2 separate regions of the Homo sapiens genome follow, and region 1 is linked to region 2. The links come from fine-mapping of genetic effects on gene expression. A gene starts in region 2. The other region holds a variant in brackets. All regions are shown on one strand. Distances are from middle to middle.

Region 1 (8,000 bases), 110 kb before region 2:
AAGGGGTGAAAAAAGATATTCCATGCAAATACAAACCAAAAGCGAGCAGAAATAGCTATTCTTATATCAGACAAAACAGACTTTAAAGCAACAATAGTTGAAAAAGACAAAAAGGGACATTACATAATGATAAAAGGATCAGTCCAACAGGAAAATATCACAATCCTAAATATATATGCACCTAGCACGGGAGCTCCCAAATTTATAAAACAATTAGTACTCAACGTAAGAAATGAGATACACAGCAACACAGTAACAGCGGGGACTTCAACACTAGACAGGTCATCAAGACAGAAAAGCAACAAAGAAACAATGGACTTACACTATACCCTAGAACAAATGGACTTAACACATATTTACAGAACATTCTACCCAACAACTGCAGAATATACATTCTTTTCATCAGCACATGGAACATTCTCCAAGAAAGACCATATGATAGGCCACAAAACAACTCTCAATAAACTTAAGAAAATCGAAATTATATCAAGTACCCTCTTAGACCACAGTAAAATAAAATTGGAAATTAACTCCAAAAGGAACCCTCAAAACTATACAAATACATGGAAATTAAAAAATATGCTCCTGAATGATCTTTGGGTAAACAATGAAATCAAGATGGAAATTAAAAAGTTTTATGAACTGAATAATGACACAGCTTATCAAAACCTCTGGGACACAGCAAAAGTGGTGCTAAGAGGAAAGTTGATAGCATTAAATGCTTACATCAAAAAGTATGAAAGAGGCCAAGCACGGTGGCTCGTGTCTGTAATCCCAGCAATTTTGGAGGCCAAGGCAGGAGGATCACTTGAGGTCAGGAGTTCAAGACCAGCCTGGCCAAAATGCCAAAACCCCGTCTCTATCAAAAATAGAAAAAAATTAGCTGGGTGTGGTGACGCATGCCTGTAGTCCCAGCTACTTGGGAGGCTGAGGCCTGAGAATTGCTTGAACCTGGGAGGCAGAGGTTGTAGTGAGCCGAGATGCACCACTGCACTCCAGCCTGGGCGACAGAGCGAGACTCCGTCTCAAAAAAAAAAAAAAAAGATCCAATTAAGCTAAATTAGAAACAAAATGAAAGATATTACAACTGATACCACAGAAATAGAAAAGATCATTCAAGACTACTATGAACACCTTTATGCACACAAACTAGAAAATCTAGAGGAAATGGATAAATTCCTGGAAATATATAACCCTCCTAGATTCATTCAGGAAAAAATAGAAACTTTGAACAGACCAATAATAAGTAGCAAGACTGAAACAGTAATTTAAAAATTGCCAACAAAAAAACAGTCTGGGACCAGATGGATTCACAGCTGAATTCTATTGAACATTCAAAGAAGAATTTGTACCAATCTTACTGAAGCTATTACAAAAGACAGAGAAAGAGGGAATCTCCCTAAATCACTCTATGAAGCCAGTATCACCCTAATACCAAAACCAGGAAAGGACATAACAAAAAATGAAATCTACAGACCAATATCCCTGGTGAACATAGATGCAAAAATCCTCAACAAAATACTACCTAATCGAATCAAATGGTGTATCAAAAAGATAATACACCATGATCAAGTGGGTTTCATACCAGGGATACAGGGAAGACTTAACGTACACATGTCAATAAATGAGATACATCACATAAACAGAATTAAAAACAAAATCATATGATCATCTCAATAGATGCCGAAAAAGCATCTGACAAAATCTAGCATGCCTTCGATTAAAGCCCTCAGGAAAACCGTCATAGAATGGAAATACCTCAAGGTAATAAAAGCCACTATGACAAACTCACAGTTGACTTTATACCGAAAAGGGAAAAGATAAAAGGGTTCCCCCTGAGAACTCTAACAGACAAGGATGCCCACTGTCACCACTGCTATTCAACATTGTACTGGAAGTCCTAGCCAGAGCAAACAGACAAGAGAAAGAAATAAAGGGCATCCAAATATGTAAAGGGGAAGTCAAAATATCGCTGTTTGCCAATGATATGATCGTATACCTAGAAAACCCTAAAGACTCATCCAAAAAGCTCCTAGATCTAATAAATGAATTCCGTAAACTTTCAGGGTACAAAATCAATGTACACAAATCAGTAACACTGCTGTATACCAACAATGACCAAGCTGAGAATCAAATCAAGAACCTCTTGTTACAATAGCTGCAAATAAAATAAAATAAAATACTTCGGAATATACCTAACCAAGGATGTGAAAGATCTCTACAAGAAAAACTGAAAAACTGATTGCTGAAAGAAATCATAGACAACACAAATAAATGGAAACACATCTAAAGCTCATGGTAGGTAAAATTAAAAATGACCATACTGCTAAGAGCAATCTACAGATTCAATGCAATTCCCATCAAACTACCATGATTATTCTTCACAGAACTAGAAAAAACAACCCTAAAATTCACAAGAAACCACAGCAGGGTGTGGTGGCTCACGCCTGTAATTCCAGCACTTTGGGAGGCTAAGGTAGGCAGATCACTTGAGCCCAGGAGTTCGAAACCAGTCTGGGCAACATGGCGAAACTCTGTCTCTACAAAATATACAAAAATCAGCTGGGTGTGGTGGCTCACGTCTGTAATCCCAGCACTTTGGGAGGCTAAAATGGGCAGATCACTTGAGCCCAGGAGTTCGAGACCAGCCTAGACAACATGGTGAAACCCTATCTTTACAAAACATACAAAAATTAGCCGGGTGTGCTGGCACATGCTGTAGTCCCAGCTACTCAGGAGGCTGAGGTGCAGGATCACTTGAGCCTTGGAGGCAGAGTTTGCCATGAGCCGAGATTGTGCCACTGCACTCCAACCTGGGTGACAGAGTGGGACCCTGTTTCAAAAAAAAAAAAAAAAAAAAAAAATCATATGGAACAAAAGAGCCCAAATAGCCAAAGCAAGATAAAGCTGGAGGCATCACATTACCCGACATCAAACTATACTACAAGGATATAGTTACCACCAAAACAGCATGGTACTGGTATAAAAATAGGCAAACAGACCAATGGAACAGAATAGAGAACCCAGAAATAAAGCCAAATACTTACAGCCAACAGATCTTCAACAAAGCAAACAAAAATACAGAGTGGGGAACAAACACCCTATTCAACAAGTGGTGCTGGGATAACTGGCAAGCCACATATAGAAGAATGAAGCTGGATCCTCATCTCTCATCTTATACAAATATCAATTCAAGATGGATCAAAGACTTAAATCTAC[G/A]ATCTGAAACCACAACAATTCTAGAAGATAACATCGGAAAAACTCTTCTAGACATTGGCTTAGGCAAATAGTTCATGACTACGAACCCAAAAGCAAATGCAACAAAAACAAGGATAAAGAGATGGCACCTAATTAAACTTAAAAGCTTCTGCACAGCAAAAGAAATAATCAGCAGAGTAAACAGACAACCCACAGAGTGGGAGAAAATATTTGCAAACTATGCATCTGACAAAGGACTAATATCTGGAATCTACAAGGAACTCAAACAAATCAGCAAGATAAAAACAAATAACCCCATTAAAAAGTGGACAAAGAACATGAATAGACAATTCTCAAAAGAAGATATACAAATGACCAACAAACATATGAAAAAAATGCTCAACATCACTAATTATCAGGGAAATGCAAATCAAAACCACAATGACATACCACCTTACTCCTGCAAGAATGGCCATAATTAAAAAATAAAAAAAATAGATATTAGCATGGAGGTGGTGAAAAGGGAACACTTTTACACTGCTGGTGGGAATGTAAACTAGTACAACCACCGTGGAAAACAGTATGGGGACTCGTTCTGGAGATGGAGTCTCACTCTGTCACCCAGGCTGGAATGCAGTGGCACGATCTCGGCTCACTGGAACCTCTGCCTCCTGGGTTCAAGTGATTCTCCTGCCTCAGCCTCCTGAGTAGCTGGGACTATAGGCATGCGCCACCATGGTTGGCTAATTTTTTGTATTTTTAGTAGAGACAGGGTTTCACCATGTTGGCTGTGCTGGTCTTGAACTCCTGACCTCAGGTGATCTTTCCGCCTCAGCCTCCCAAAGTGCTGGGATTACAGGCATGAGCCACTGCACCTGGCCAGAGATTCCTTAAAGAACTAAAAGTAGAACTACCATTTGATCCAGCAATCCCACTACTGTGTATCTACCCAGAGGAAAAGAAGTCATTATGTGAACAATACACTTGTACACACGTTTATAGCAGCACCATTTGCAACTGCAAAAATACGGAACCAGTCTAAATGCCCATCAACCAATGAGTGGATAAAGAAAATGTGGTATATATACACCATGGAATACTACTCAGCCTTAAAAAGGAATGAAATAATGGCATTCACAGCAACCTGGATGGAGTTGGAGACCATTATTCTAAGTGAAGTAACTCAGGAATGGAAAACCAAACATTATATGTTCTCACTTATAAGTAGGAGCTAACCTATGAGGATGCAAAGGTATAACAATGATGTAATGGACTTTGGGGACTCAGGGGGAAGGGTGAAGAGGGTGAGTGATAAAAGACTACACATTGGGTACAGTGTACACTGCTCAGGTGATGGGTGCACTAAAATGTCAAAAAAAGAAAAAAAGCAACTCATGTAAATAGGATATTCAATAAGATTATCAGCATAGTCAGTGGGATGACATATTCAAAAGAAAGAAAGAGGCCAGGTGCAGTGGCTCACACCTGTAATCCCAGCACTTTGGGAGGCTGAGGTAGGTGGATTGCTTGAGCTCAGGAGTTTGGGACCAGCCTGGGCAACACAGCAAAATCCCACCTCTACCAAGAAAAAAAATAAAAATAAAAAATTTGCCAGGCATGGTGGCGCACATCTGTGGTCCCAGCTACTCAGGAGGCTGAGGTGGGAGGCCCACTTGAGCCTGGGAGGTGGAGGTTGAAGTAAGTCGAGATTACACCAATGTACTCCAGCCTGGGTGGCAGAGTCAGACTCTGTCTCCAAAAATCTACAACATCGTGGAAGTTGGAAAACACACTGTTATTTTAAATTTCATGTATTTTTATAAAAACAGATGGAGTTGGTTGGGTGTGGTGGCTTACACCTGTAATCCCAACACTTTGGGAGCCTGAGACGGGTGGATTGATTGAGCCTAGGAATTTGAGACCAGCCTGGGCAACATGGAGAAAACCCCATCTCTACAAAAGATACAACAATTAGTTGGGTGTGGTGGTGCACGCCTGTAATCCCAGCTACTCGGGAGGCAGAGGCAGGAGGATTGATTGAGCCAGAAGGTTGAGGCCACAGTGAGGGGAAAAAAAAAAAAGAGAGAGAGAGAGAGAGTCTTGCTATGTTGCTCAGGCTGGTCTCGAATTCCTGACCTCAAGTGATCTTCCCACCTCAGCTTCCCAAAGTGCTGGGATTACAGGTGTGAGCCACCACGCCTGGCTGAAAAAACACACTATTAAACAAAGTGAGACAAATGAAAATGAAAATACAACATACCAAAACTTACAGTATGCAGTGAAAGCTGATCTCAAATCAATAATCTAACATTACACCTTAAGGAACTAGAAAAAGAACTATACCTAAAGCTAGCAGAAGAAAATAATAAAGATAATGGGACAAGATAAATGGAAAATAATAGAGATAATCAATGAAACCAAAAGTTGATTCTTTGAAAAGATGAACAAAATTGACAAACTTTTAGCTAGACTACATAATAAAAAGAGAGACAAGATCCAAATAATGAAAATCAAAAATGAAAGCAGGGACATTACAACCAATGCCACAAAAATAAAAAAGATTATAAATAAGAGAACAGCATGAACAACTATATGACAATAAATCTGATAACCTACATAAAATGGAAACAACTTACCAAGACTGGCTCATAAAGAAATTAAAAATCTGGACGGATCTCTAATGAGCAAGAAAACTGAATCAATAAAACAAACCCTCTCATAAAGAAAAGCCTAGGATCATATAGCTTCTCTGATGTATTCTACCAAACACTTAGAGAATTAACACCAATCCTCCTTCCAAAATAGGTAGGAACACTTCCTATTTCATTCTATGAGGACAGCATTACCCTGACAAAGCTAGACAAAGATACTACAAGAAAACTATTAGATCAATATCCTTTGTAAACAGTGACCCAAAAATCCTCAACAAAATGCCAGCAAACAGAATTCCAAAGTACATTAAAAGAATTATACACCATGACCAAGTGGGATTTATTCCTTGAATGCAAGAATGGTTTAACATATGAAAACCAATCACTGTAATACATCACATTAATGAAATAAAAGAAAATTTTAAAATGACACGATCATCTTAATGCAGAAAAAGCATCTGAGAAAATGCAACATTCTTTCTTGATAAAAGCACTCAACAAACTAGGAATGGAAGAAAACTATCTCGACATAGTAAAGACCATAAATAAAAAGCCCACAGCTAACATCGTACTTAATGGTAAAAGACTAAAAGCTTTTCCTTTAATATCAGGAACAAGAGAAGGATGCCTGCTTCCAGCACTAATATTTAACGTAGTATTAAGAGTCCTAGACAGATCAATTAGGCAAGGAGAAGAAATAAAAGGCAACCAAATTGGGAAAAAAGAAGTAAAATTATTTCTGTTCACAGATGACATGATCTTATATATGGAAAACCCTAAAGATTCAGCGAAAAACTACTATAAACAAAGCAAAACATTCTGCCTGCCTGTGGTACTAGGAAGAAGCTGCAAGAGGACTTGCCCTCTGGCCTGAAGGCAATGTAAAGAGCAGCCAAGTATTATTGATATTTCCTCACCCTTCGGCTCTCAGTAAAGGATGGTTTTTCCACTCTTTCAGGATGCGATGTATAGCTCTTTGTACAGCCTGCAACACACAACTTAATCACCACCTCTCTGGCCACTGCCACAGGTCTTACAGCAGCAGTCCCCAACCTTTTCGGCACCCAGGACTGGTTTTTTTTTATGGACCAGTGGGGGAGGGGAAGACGGTTTCAGGATAAAACTGTTCCACCTCAGATCATCAGGCATTAGATTCTCATAAGGAGCACACAACCTAGATCTCTCATATGTGAAGTTCACAATAGGGTTTGTGCTCCTATGAGAATTTAATGTTGCTGCTGACTGGTCTGTGGCCCAGAGGTTGGGGACCCCTGTCTTACACTGAAGACCACAGCAAAGGGAGGCTTCCTAAGAACAGGGCCTGGCTGGGGAGGCTGGAGCCAGAACAAAGCCCAGGAACCTGAAAGGTGTTTGCTTAGTGCCCCAACCTTCTGCTTCTCATTTTCCTCCCATGCACACTGAACCATGCAAAGGATCCTTGAAGTTGAAAGAAATCTGAACCTTTGGTGTCCCTGTGGTGCACTGGCAGCTCAAATCAGAGTATATAAAGAGCTCCTATAATATACATAGAGTTCCTACAAACCATTGAGAAAAACAAATGGCAACAAGTATTTCAATAGATAGTTCAAAAAAGGGAAACACAAGCGGCTCTTAAGCATGTGAAATGATGCTCTCCTAACAAGCCTTCTTGGGAGGGCTGCTGAGTCAGCATGGCTGGTTGGAAGTCCACCCTCCAACCACAGCTATATTTTCCCAGTTATTTGAAGGATCAGTTCCACTTGAATGACCAATTCTCACCATAAATGTTGATAAATAAGGCCAGGCACGGTGGCTCACGCCTGTAATCCCAGCACTTTGGGAGGCTGAGGTGGGCCACTGCATTCCACACTCCAGCCTGGGTGACAGAGAGAGACTTCGTCTCAAATAAACACATAAATAAAATAAAAGAGTGTTGATAAATAAACCCAAGAAGAGCACAGAAGGCTCATGCTCACTCATCTCCTCTGCCCCAACATCTAGATGAAAAGACAGTAAACATACAGAAAAAAAGGAACAAATTCAGAATAGTGTTGAGATCAGGAGAGGACCTGGCAGAAGACACTGGGATTGGCTATGTCTACGTCTGCTCTAAATCCTCTTCTCTTACATATTCTTTGTACAGAGGGAGAAAACCTGCTCATTTTCCCAGCC
Region 2 (10,326 bases):
ATCTAACAAGTGTGAACTTAATTTTCAGCTTCTATTTGAAATCAGATGAAATAGCTTTTGATACATTAACCACCAGGGGAAATTTTGAGGGAAGGAGTGCTTAATTCCATATGTCTTGGACTTGGATTTCTTCAGCTGAGTCCACAAACCCTCTTTATGCAAGGTTGTGTGTTCTGTAGCTGTGTGCATTTCTTAAAAACCAGAGTCTCCAGGGGCCGACCTGGGAGCCTAAGAAGTGAAGCCTGCTGGTGCAGAGGGGCCAGCAAGCCCTACCTGCTCGGCACACCTGCCTGCATGTGCAGTGGAACTGAGCGAGTGGAGCAGAGTGTGAGCACTCACAATGCTCACCAAACCTGGGACGTGGCAGGCAGTTTCCCAAGGACTAGGAAAGACATTCACAGTGGCACAACTGTTTAGCTACCTCATTATGACCCACCTGTGTGTCCACACAGGTCAGGGCTACCCTTCAGTTTACCTGAGAAGCCTAGACCTCAGGACCGCCATCTCCTATGCTACCATGCCCAGCCTGACCTGGCTGCTCACAAGTACCTGCCATAATGCTTGGCCTCCTGGAAGCTCTAAAGCGGTGCAATTGTCCTGCAGAACATCGCAGTGTCAGGGTATCCTGCATGCAGGTGAGGGGTGGGCAAGTAGGGCTAGCAATGTCCTGCTCCATGTTCCTGTGAGCAAGAGCTCACAGGGACCCACCAGACTGTGTAGGCTGGTCACAGTCCCCAGGGCTGTGCAACAGCAACTTGAAACAGACTGAGGAAGCTGCACAGGCCAATGGCAGGGATGCTTGTCACTCGTCCTTCTCCTGTGGCAGAGGGAGATGCCAGTCTGGAGGGGGGCTCTGCCTCGGGGCCCACACCAGGATGTGCTTCCGTGCAGCCCGGACTCGTGCCCGCTCGCTCTCACAGAGGGATTGCTGTGCAAATGAGACTCTAGTCACTCCCCAGGCTCTGAGCACCCTCAAGACCCCTGTACCTCCCCCCTCTCATCACCCTCTGAAACACAGATGGACAGGCAGGGCCTATGGTACACACCACTCTGCAGCACAGCTGCTTCCACCTACTATACCTTGGCGATTCTTCCATATTAGCGCACAGAGATGGAGATCATTTTTTTTCTCACAAGCTACTGTGAAAAACTACTGAATAGGTCATAATAATTTGAGGAATTTTTAAATATCTTCTCCTGGACCTCAGGGCTCAATGGCTCTGGTTGACCTCGTGAGTCTGGGGCATATTCACCTGCTGAGAGTGAGCCTGGGGGTGCTGGGTGGAGAGGAGAGAAGAGTCTGAGAGAGCAGCTGTGGGGAGCTGCAGGGAGGAGTGTGTTAGGGAGAAGGGAGGAAGACGGGGAAGAAATACATGTCCTGGGTATCCTGGAAGGGTGGGAAGAGTCCAGAGGACAGACCACCCGCCTGAGTGGTGCCACAAGTGCCACTTAACCCATCAGCTTCTCTTGGCTACTGTCTCCCAATACAGACACAAGTCAGTGTATCACAACATGGGTGACCTTTGCTGTCAGCCCTTGGTAGGTATCAGGTGCTATGTGAGCCTCTTTACACAGATAACTTAATCTGTCTACATGTCTGTCTTTGTTCAAGCTCTATTGCCTCAAATAAAATATTTTGATCGTGTTTAAAAAGCTATCAGAAATGTAGTACAGAATATTAAAGATTCCCAAATGTCCATTCCCAATGCGGCAGTTAACAGCTTCCCTGATATCTTTTTTTGGTCCACATTTTAGAGCTAACATGTTTCCCTAAAGATAGGATAATCTTTTGCTGGCTAGTCTACTTCCTGCTTTCTTTTCACTAAACAATACACTGTAGGCACTTTTCCATACCCAGGGAGATGACCGACCATTCTTTTCAAAGGCTATCTGGTATTTCACTTTGTGGAAAAAGCTATTTGGTCAAATGTCTATTAGTGAAATTTAGGTTGTTTTCAGCTTTTGCAGTATCAAAAACATAATTAGCATTCTAACTTTTAACTGTACACTGTTATCCAATTACTTCCCTGGGATAAAGTTCCAGAAGTAAAACTTAAGGTCAAAAGGTATGTATCTGACATTTACATAATCAGAACACCTGACACCCCCACCAACACTGCACAACTACCCAGAATTCTTCAAACCTCTATCAACACCACTTTCTGCTGTTACTGTCATTTAGACTTATATACCTGACACCTGGCCATTTGATTTTTTCTTTTTTTTTCTTGAGAGGGAGTCTTACTCTGTTGCCCAGGCTGGAGTGCAGTGACACGATCTCGGCTCATTGCAACCTCCGCCTCCCAGGTTCAAACAATTCTCCTATCTCAGCCTCCCGAGTAGCTGAGATTACAGGTGTTTGCCACCATGCGTGGCTAATTTTCGTATTTTTAGTAGAGATGGGGTTTCGCCATGTTGCCAGGCTGGTCTCAAACTCCTGACCTCAGGTGATCTGCCCACCTCGGCCTCCCAAAGTGCTAGGATTACAGGCATGAGCCACCATGCCCAGGCTTTTCTCCTTTTTTATTATTTTTATAAAGATGGAGTCTCACCATGTTGCCCATGGCTGGTCTCAAGCTCCTGGGCTCAAGCGATCCCCTTGCCTCGGCCTCCCAAAGTGCCGAGATTACAGGTGCCCACCACCATGCCCAGCTGGCTTTCTTTTTTAATGAATTGCTTCTTTGTGTCCTTTGGCCATTTTTCCATTCTGAAATAATCCCTATATTTCTTATTGATATATATATAACAGCTCTTTATACACACACACGCACATATATATACATTAAAGTTATCAATCTCTTGCTATATAAGCTGTCAGCTTTCTTACTTTTTTTGACTTTCACATATTATGGAATAGTCATCATTTTCTTTTATACAGCAGTCTGGTTTCCACATCAGTTCATCTCTTTCAGATCACTGTATACACTTAATAATGTTGAAGTGTTGATCAGTCCCATTGATTCTCATTCCTTGGCACTCCCCATGAGCCTCGCACCTTTCGGCTGGCTTCTCTCCATCTCCTCTCCCACAAGGGGTCCACCGTAGCACTGTATTCTACACTACAGTGTGGGTGCCAGGAGGGCAGAGACTCTTCTTATCACTCGTGCATCCCCAAGAGCACCCAATGTGGTACATATTTGCTGGACGAAAAAACAACTAGAACCACCTCCTTACCGGTCTCTCTGCTCCTGTAATATATTCTCTACACCCTAGCAAACAGATTGAACTTCTTTTACCCTCTCTCTTTTTTTTCCCCCCTGAGACAGGTCTCCCTCTGTTATCCAGGCTGGTGTGCAGTGGTGTGACCATAGCTCACTGCAGCTTTGAACTCCTGGGCTTAGGCGATCCTCCCGCCTCACCCTCCCAAGTAGCTGGGACCACAGGTGCACGCCACCACACTTTGCTAACAGACTGATCTTTTAAAGATATAAATCGAATTATGCCTCCCAGCACACTTTAGACTAAACTCTAAACTCCGTATCAAAAGGCCCGCCAGGTCCCTGGTATACCGCTCTCCAACCATCCACCTACCCTCTGCTTCAGGAACCCAGGCCTTATCTGTTTCTCAGCGGTGTCTACCGGGGCTGGATGAAGGCTGGCTCCTGGTCACTCAGGACTCAGCAACATCACCTCCTGCGTAGGCCAGCTGATGACCCTAACACCGGACGGCTGCCCTCTTCCCTCTCTAAACCACTCTACACCCCCTCCTCGCTGGTCTCCTCCTTTGTCTTTCACGCCCTCTGAAAGTCCTGTTGATATGCTAATTTACACAATCTCTCAAAAGAAAGGAAGCGTGAGGAGGATAGGGACCCCGTCAGTCCCCGGCTAGGTCGCGGGGCATGGGGCGTGGAGGGGTGGGGAAAGCTGGGCCCCGCAAGGCGCTCCGAAGCGCCGCCCCGCTCCCTCCCGGCGCACCTGGGCCTCGGCGTTCCGGCGCTCCTCCCAGTCGCGGCAGCTGGCCAGGTCGCGCTGCCACTGTTCGCAGGCCGGCCGCTCGCCGTGGACGTAGTAGTGGTGTAGGAAGTGCCTGGCGCTGCGGCAGAGCTTCCACTCGGCGCGGTAGGCCTCGCAGGGGCGCGGCGGCTGCGGCGAGAGGCGGCGCCTGAGCGGGGCCCGGCGGCCGCGCCCTACGCCCCGAGCCAGTCCCGTTCCCTCCCTCCGGAAGACCCCGGTGGTTCCCGGCTCCGACCCAGCACACTCACCTGCCAGCCGCTGCCGTCCGCCATGTCTGGGCGACCGGCGCGCCAAGCCCGCCCCTCAGTCCGCCAGCCAATGAAAAATGAAGAAAACGGCACCTCGTGATCGACTGACAGAAGAACTAATGAGCACCGACACATTCAATCACGTCTTCGCCCCCTTCTTCGAGAAGCGCCGACAAACAGGACGAGCAACCAATAGCAACCGAGGGCGGCTGCGGCGCGCGCGGAGGGCCGGGGTCGCAGGGTAAATCCGGGGCGAGACCTGGCGCGAAGCCTACGCGACCACCGCGACGACAGCGCCATTCACCCCGGGCCAGGCGGGCATCCTGGGCCGCGCAGCTACCTTACGTCAGCCGCCTCTCAAATCACACGGCTCTGGCCAGTTCTTTTCAGCAGCTTTATGAGATTTTCTCAAATCTCAACAATCCGGTATATTTTCAAAAGTACATACTGAGCATCAAGGTGGTGCAGCGAACCTCCCAGATCTGCAGCTCCAGCAGTCTTGCTTGAGCGTCCACTCAGGATGGAGGTGAACTCGCAAAGTAACTGAGATTGGTTGGGCATGACATATGGTGGATCTAGGGTTGAATGACCTCCCCAGGGAACGCAGGCTTGAAGTGGAGGCTGAGAATGCAATCCGAGTACAGCCATAGGCCGGTCAAAGGTATGGAGGCGGTGTGTAGCAGGGGTGAGCGGGGTAGGAGTGGCTTGGATGTCTGTAGTTCTATTCTAAGGGTGCGGGAGACATGTAACATTTACCTTATTCATTTTTCGAGACAGGGTCTTGCTGTGTCACCCAGGCTTAGTGCAGTGGCGTGGCGTGTTCATGGCTTACTGCAACCTCAAACTCCTGGACTCCGAACAGCTGGGACCAAAAGCATGCACAGCCTCACCAGGCTAATTTTTAATTTTTTTTTTTTTTTTTTGTAAAGATGGGGTCTTGCTAAGTTACCCAGGCTAGTTTGGCCTCAAGCGACCCTCTCACTTTGGCCTCCCAAAGTGCTAGGATTATAGGCGGAGCGCCAGTGCCTGGCTGGGACGTTTATAAAAAGGAGCAATGCACAAGAGGCAACAAAGGCAAGTAAAGAGGAGGCTGGTGGGCTTGCAGAAACGCCCTGCAGTACCTATGCTGCGGTTCTCCCACTTCACTGATAACAAATCCTCAGTATCCACTGATACAAATCCTGGGACTGCTGGGCCAGTCCCAGGAATGACACTGGGACAGACTCCCTGGAGGTGGATCAGAAAGCTGCAGTTTTACCAGGGGTCCTGCTGTTGAGGCAGCCGGCTCAAGGACCAAGCCCAAATAAGACACTGAGAGGAAGGCTGCAGGCCAGGGTGCAGGAGTAATGACCAGGATCAGTGCTCCAACTGGCCCCACTGTGTCATTAAAAGGCTCTGCAATGGAATCCATCCTGGTCCAGGCAGGGGAGTGTGCCTCCAGCAAAGGACCAGGCGTTTCACTGCATACACAGCAGGTGTTGCTTAGTGAAGACAAAAACCCAGAGCCAGAGGTACTGTAACATTCTTCATTATGCATAAAGTGACAGTCTGTTAGCTGATGTGATCCTGCAAATGAAGGCTGTCTACCCACCAAGGGTTTCTCCCTCTGCTAGTAAAACTGAGACTTTGTCAGTGGAGGCTCAGGTAAGTCCCCACAGTGCTCATGCCTTCCAAAACCACGCCCATTTCCAGTGATGATGGTTTGTGCCACAGGCCAAGTACTGAACATCATGACACTCATAGACACTCTTCACTGAAGACGTGGATAGACCCTGGGGCCACCATTCTCTCCTCTCTGGAGTGTTGGAGGGGCCCTGACCAGGGCAGGACCCCCATGTCTGGAAGCAGGGTTAGCCCTGGCTCATGGGGGACCCTGCTGGGCTTAGCCATTGCCACCTAGGGATCAGGCAGCCTTGTTTCTTCCTACTTTCTCCAGGAGAAGCCCCAGAGGGACACTTTTCTAATGGTGAGATGGAACACGGAGCACCTGCCAACAGGCCTTCAGTTATGGTCAGAGGCCCAACCACCAGTCTGTGTTAGTACCTAATCAAACATTTAGATTTAGGCTTTAGTTATTGCCTGTTTTTACTTGAAATTCTTGGCTTAGAATTATTCCCAATGGGGCCAGGCACAGTGGCTCATGGGAACAAATTTAAAATAATCAGATTAGCATGTCAAAAGATCTCACGTTATAGAAAGTGAAGATCTAAGACCAAATAAATACTGATAAAAAATACAGGCCAGCAGAAGCTTGGATGATTTAATAAATTAAAATTGGGAGTTGGGGAGTAGGGAAGAAGGAGAGGAACATCTCTTTAGCATTTGTTCATTCTAACATTCACATGTTTGCTTCTCCATGGAGTTGTTTCACTATGAACAGGTTCACTAAGGAGCCAGTTATGTCCATATGAAATGAGAATAAAAGTGCAAACTCATTCAGATCAGGTTCTTCTGAGTGGTGTTTTTGAAAAAAATATGTAAAATAAAAATAGAAACATTCTTTGTCAAATACTTAAATTGCAGCCACAGTAGTGGGACAGCCACTACTTATAGAACACATGTCTATTTAAAGCCTTTTTTTAGGCCAAAGACTGACACCTATGCAATTGATGTAGGAAAAGAAAGGATAAATGAAGAAAAAGAAAGAACACTTCATGTTAGACAATTTAGTCACCTTCATAGGTTTTGACAGAATTAGGGATGCAGAATTGCTCCTGCTGAGGCAGTGGGAGCTCCCCTCAAGCTGAAAGCGTGAAGAGGTGAGGAGGCAGCTATCTACAGGCCCTCAGGGACAGCTCTTTGTCTTTCCCCAAATCAAGCATACAACTACAAAGTCCTGCTGCTCCACTTCCAAGTCAAACTTAATAATTCTTAGGTAACTCTAAATAAATCTTAAGTAACAGAGTATTCTCTGATGAGGCTCGTCCCTGTCAGTGCCAGTAACTAAAAGCCAAGATGTTGCAAATGATTCTTTTATTATTTTCCAATCAGCCAACAGTCCTCACTTAGGGCTTTCTTCCCTTTTTACGCAATGACTGTCCTTCTCCAGAGAAAGCGACGAATCTGCCTCCAGCTTCATCCTAGGTTTGAAGAGAAGATACTATTTTCAGAAACTCCCTGGAGGTTTACAATAAATGCCTTACTCTATGGACTCACGTACCATCCACATTACTCATAAGAAATATCTCAGGCTGGACACGATAGCTGACACCTGTAATCCCAGCACTTTAGGAGGCCTAGGTGGGAGGATCACTTGAGCCCAGGAGTTCAAGACCAGCCTGGGCAACATAGTGAGATCCCATCTCTACCAAAAATAGCTCAGTGTGGTATGTGCCTATGATCCCAGCTACTTGGGAGGCTGAGACGGGAGGATGGTTTGAGCCAGGGCCATAGTGAGCTATGATTGTGCCACTGCTCCAGCCTGGATGGCAGAGCAACAGAGCAAGACCCTGCCTCAAAAAAAAAAAAAAAAAAAAAAGTCTGTAAGTTCATCACCCAAAAACATTTCAGGTCACTTTTCTGTACATGCTTAAAGAATTGTTTTCCCACTTAATTCTGAAATCTCATGCCAATAAACTTCCTGTCTAGTATACTCCCAAGGCTACAGAACTGAATTCTGTAAAAAAGAATTCCATGATGTAGGAGGGCCAGTTTTCTACCAGTGGACATTGTTGTGGTAAGCAGCTTAATGTATTTGCACACAACTCTGATTTTTTTTAGAGCTCAAATTCCTGGGTCAAAGTGTGTACACACTTTTAATGCTTTTAACATATAGAGACCAACCAGCCCTCAGAAACATTCCACTAAGCTATCCTTCCATCAGCAGAAAGAGGGATTGTTTTTTCCCAAACCTTTGAAAACTGCACATATTTTTTTTCACATGCTTTTATTGCTAGTCAGTCTGAGGCATTATCTCAACTTTTCCCTAGGAAGAAGAGGATTCTGGAATGTTCAACACACATCCCTGCACCTGGCTCCCCACTAACTGTAGCATGTTATACCTGCAATAGAGCACTGTTTAGTATTTATGTGGTCACATTCATGTAAATTTGAGTCACAGCTGCATTTAGTCTTCCTTTGCCGCACAGCCTTCCATTCATCCTGGTGTCAATAGCTGTGTTTGGCTTCTTCCTCTATTCAATCACAGCCTGCATTGCATGGAGTTCATCTGTTTTGACAAACCTGTGTCTCCTGGGCCTTCGCCCTGCCGTACCTGGACTGGCCTTTCTCTAGGTGCCGTACATGTTAGTGGGGGCTCCTTATTTCCTGGATTCTATGACTTTCTTATTTCTACCTTATTCCTTCATTTTAGTGAGGAACACCTCCTAGGAGCTTCCTGAGAAAAGATGCATGAGGATTATCTTCTTGTGAGTTCCTTTTTTCTAATCTCATATTTCATTGATAGGCTGGTTGGTATGTTAGTCTGCTAGGGCTGCCATATAAAATGCCAAAGATAGGGTGGCTCAAACAACAGAAATTTATTCTTCATAGTTTTGGAGGCTAGAAGTGCAGGATCAAGGTGTCAGCAGGTTTGGTTTCCTCTGACACCCTTTTCCTTGGCTTGCAGATGGCTGCCTTCTTGCTGTGTCCTCACATGGCCCTTCCTATGTCCAAATTTCCTCTTCTTAAAAGGACACCAGATTGAATTATGGCCAACTCTAATGGTCTTATTTTAACTTAATTGCTTCTTTAAATGGCCCTATCTGAGTTACTGGGGGTTAGGGCTTCAACACAGAAACACTGGAGGGACACAATCCAGCTCATAAGAGTTGGTACAGAATTTTAGGTTGGAAAAAATTTCCCCTCAGAATTTTGAGTATATTGCTCCACTATCTTCTAGTTTCCTCTGTGTCCTGCTAAGATGATGTCCCTTTTTTTGGGAGACAGGGACTTACTGTTACCCAGGCTGGAGTGCAGTGGTGTGATCTCAGCTCACAGCAGCCTCCACCTCCCAGGCTCAAGTGATGCTCCCAACTCAGCATTAAAGTAGCTGGGACTATAGGTGCGTGCCACCATGCTTGGCTAATTTTTAAAATTTTCTGTAGAGACAGGGTCTCCCTATATTGCCCAGGCTGGTCTCAAACTCCTGGGCTCAGATGATCTTCCCGCATCAGCCTCCCAAAGTGTTGGGATTACAGGTGTGAGCCATGGCGCTTGGCTGATGATGTCCTTAATGCATGGTGATACCTCTGTTCTCTCTCTAGAAGCTTTAGGATCTTTCTTTGCCTCAAAGTGGGGCTATTTTCATTCATTTTGCTGGAACTCAGTGAGCCCTTCAAATCTGCAAAATTGTGCCCATCTTTGGGGAAACTATTTCCCTGATGATTTCTGCTCCTTTGGTTTCTGTGGCTGTTCTTCCCACAAATCCTCTATTATTTAGATGCTGGAATGGAAAGCTTTCTGACTGTGGCCTTCACTTCAGAGATAGTAGTCTAGAGACCTACTGGAGTCGAGCCTCCAGCCTTCTGGGATGGGGGAGGGAGGGTAATGCAGCTCTAACTGCTTAGTAACAGAATTCTGTCTTTAGTCCCTCATTTCTAGAGGTGCCTTTTGAGAATTCCACAATCTACACAGAACTGCTTCTAGGCTTTCTATGGTCTACTAAGGTACCTGGGGCTTCCAAAGCCTTGTAGTTGCCTCCTCTTCCACTGTCTTTCTTACCTCATGACCTTTAGCCACAGCCTTAGTGGGGCTGCAGGATGGAATAGAGCTAAATATGTCTTCAATCCCATCTTTAAACATATACTTCTTAAATACATATTTATGGTCAAACAGGCCTGCTGTGCCCACTGGCCTCCCCTGCCTTCTGTAAATTTGCAACAGTCAGGTCACAGTCAGCCTGGGGGACGTCCCATGCTAAGGTCTTAGGTCGGAGTCAGGCACTGGCTTTTAGTGAGAAAGGCAGCCTGTAGCTGGTGAAGCCTGGATGGTGCCTGAAGGAGGAGCTGGAGGGTGAGGTCTGACTGGCCACTATGTTTGCTCCTCTGAGCCTGAAAGGTCCCAATGCCCAATGCTGTTTCAACTTGAACATTGAGCCCAGAAGTGGTTGTGAGTAGGACCAGGTGTGCAAACTTCACAGTGGTCTCTGTCCCCAACCACCCCAAGTGCTAGAGAAAAGAGTTCA

Alleles and levels. Positions count from the first base shown, and alleles are read on the strand shown. Sizes are in standard deviations (SD) of each study's normalised expression.
For the expression in lung of the gene that starts at base 4,249 in region 2, allele A in region 1 goes with a higher level than allele G (small effect, 0.15 SD a copy in GTEx).

The links. PIP is the estimated chance that this variant, and not a neighbour inherited with it, causes the effect.
Region 1: its variant is fine-mapped to the expression of C22orf39 in lung (TOPMed, PIP above 0.99).

The regions. Positions count from the first base shown.
Region 1 is chr22:19,338,609-19,346,608 of GRCh38, forward strand. The region is part of intron 24 of HIRA (histone cell cycle regulator); the gene reads right to left. The region is part of intron 5 of LOC105372859 (a long non-coding RNA gene); the gene reads left to right. Among named protein-coding and RNA genes, the nearest start is that of CLTCL1, 51 kb to the left of the region's middle. The variant G/A (reference allele first, on the strand shown) is at 3,220.
Region 2 is chr22:19,443,463-19,453,788 of GRCh38, forward strand. It overlaps C22orf39 (chromosome 22 open reading frame 39), which reads right to left and starts at 4,249. Exons shown (of 3, transcript NM_173793.5): 1 at 4,203-4,249; 2 at 3,916-4,083; 3 at 1-928. The coding sequence starts at 4,226. The coding sequence ends at 803. UFD1 (ubiquitin recognition factor in ER associated degradation 1) reads right to left here. Exons shown (of 12, transcript NM_005659.7): 12 at 6,449-7,282. The coding sequence ends at 7,208. UFD1-AS1 (UFD1 antisense RNA 1) reads left to right here and starts at 3,972. Exons shown (of 2, transcript NR_186687.1): 1 at 3,972-4,863; 2 at 8,132-8,226. RefSeq lists an enhancer at 3,445-4,347 and a silencer at 3,795-4,194.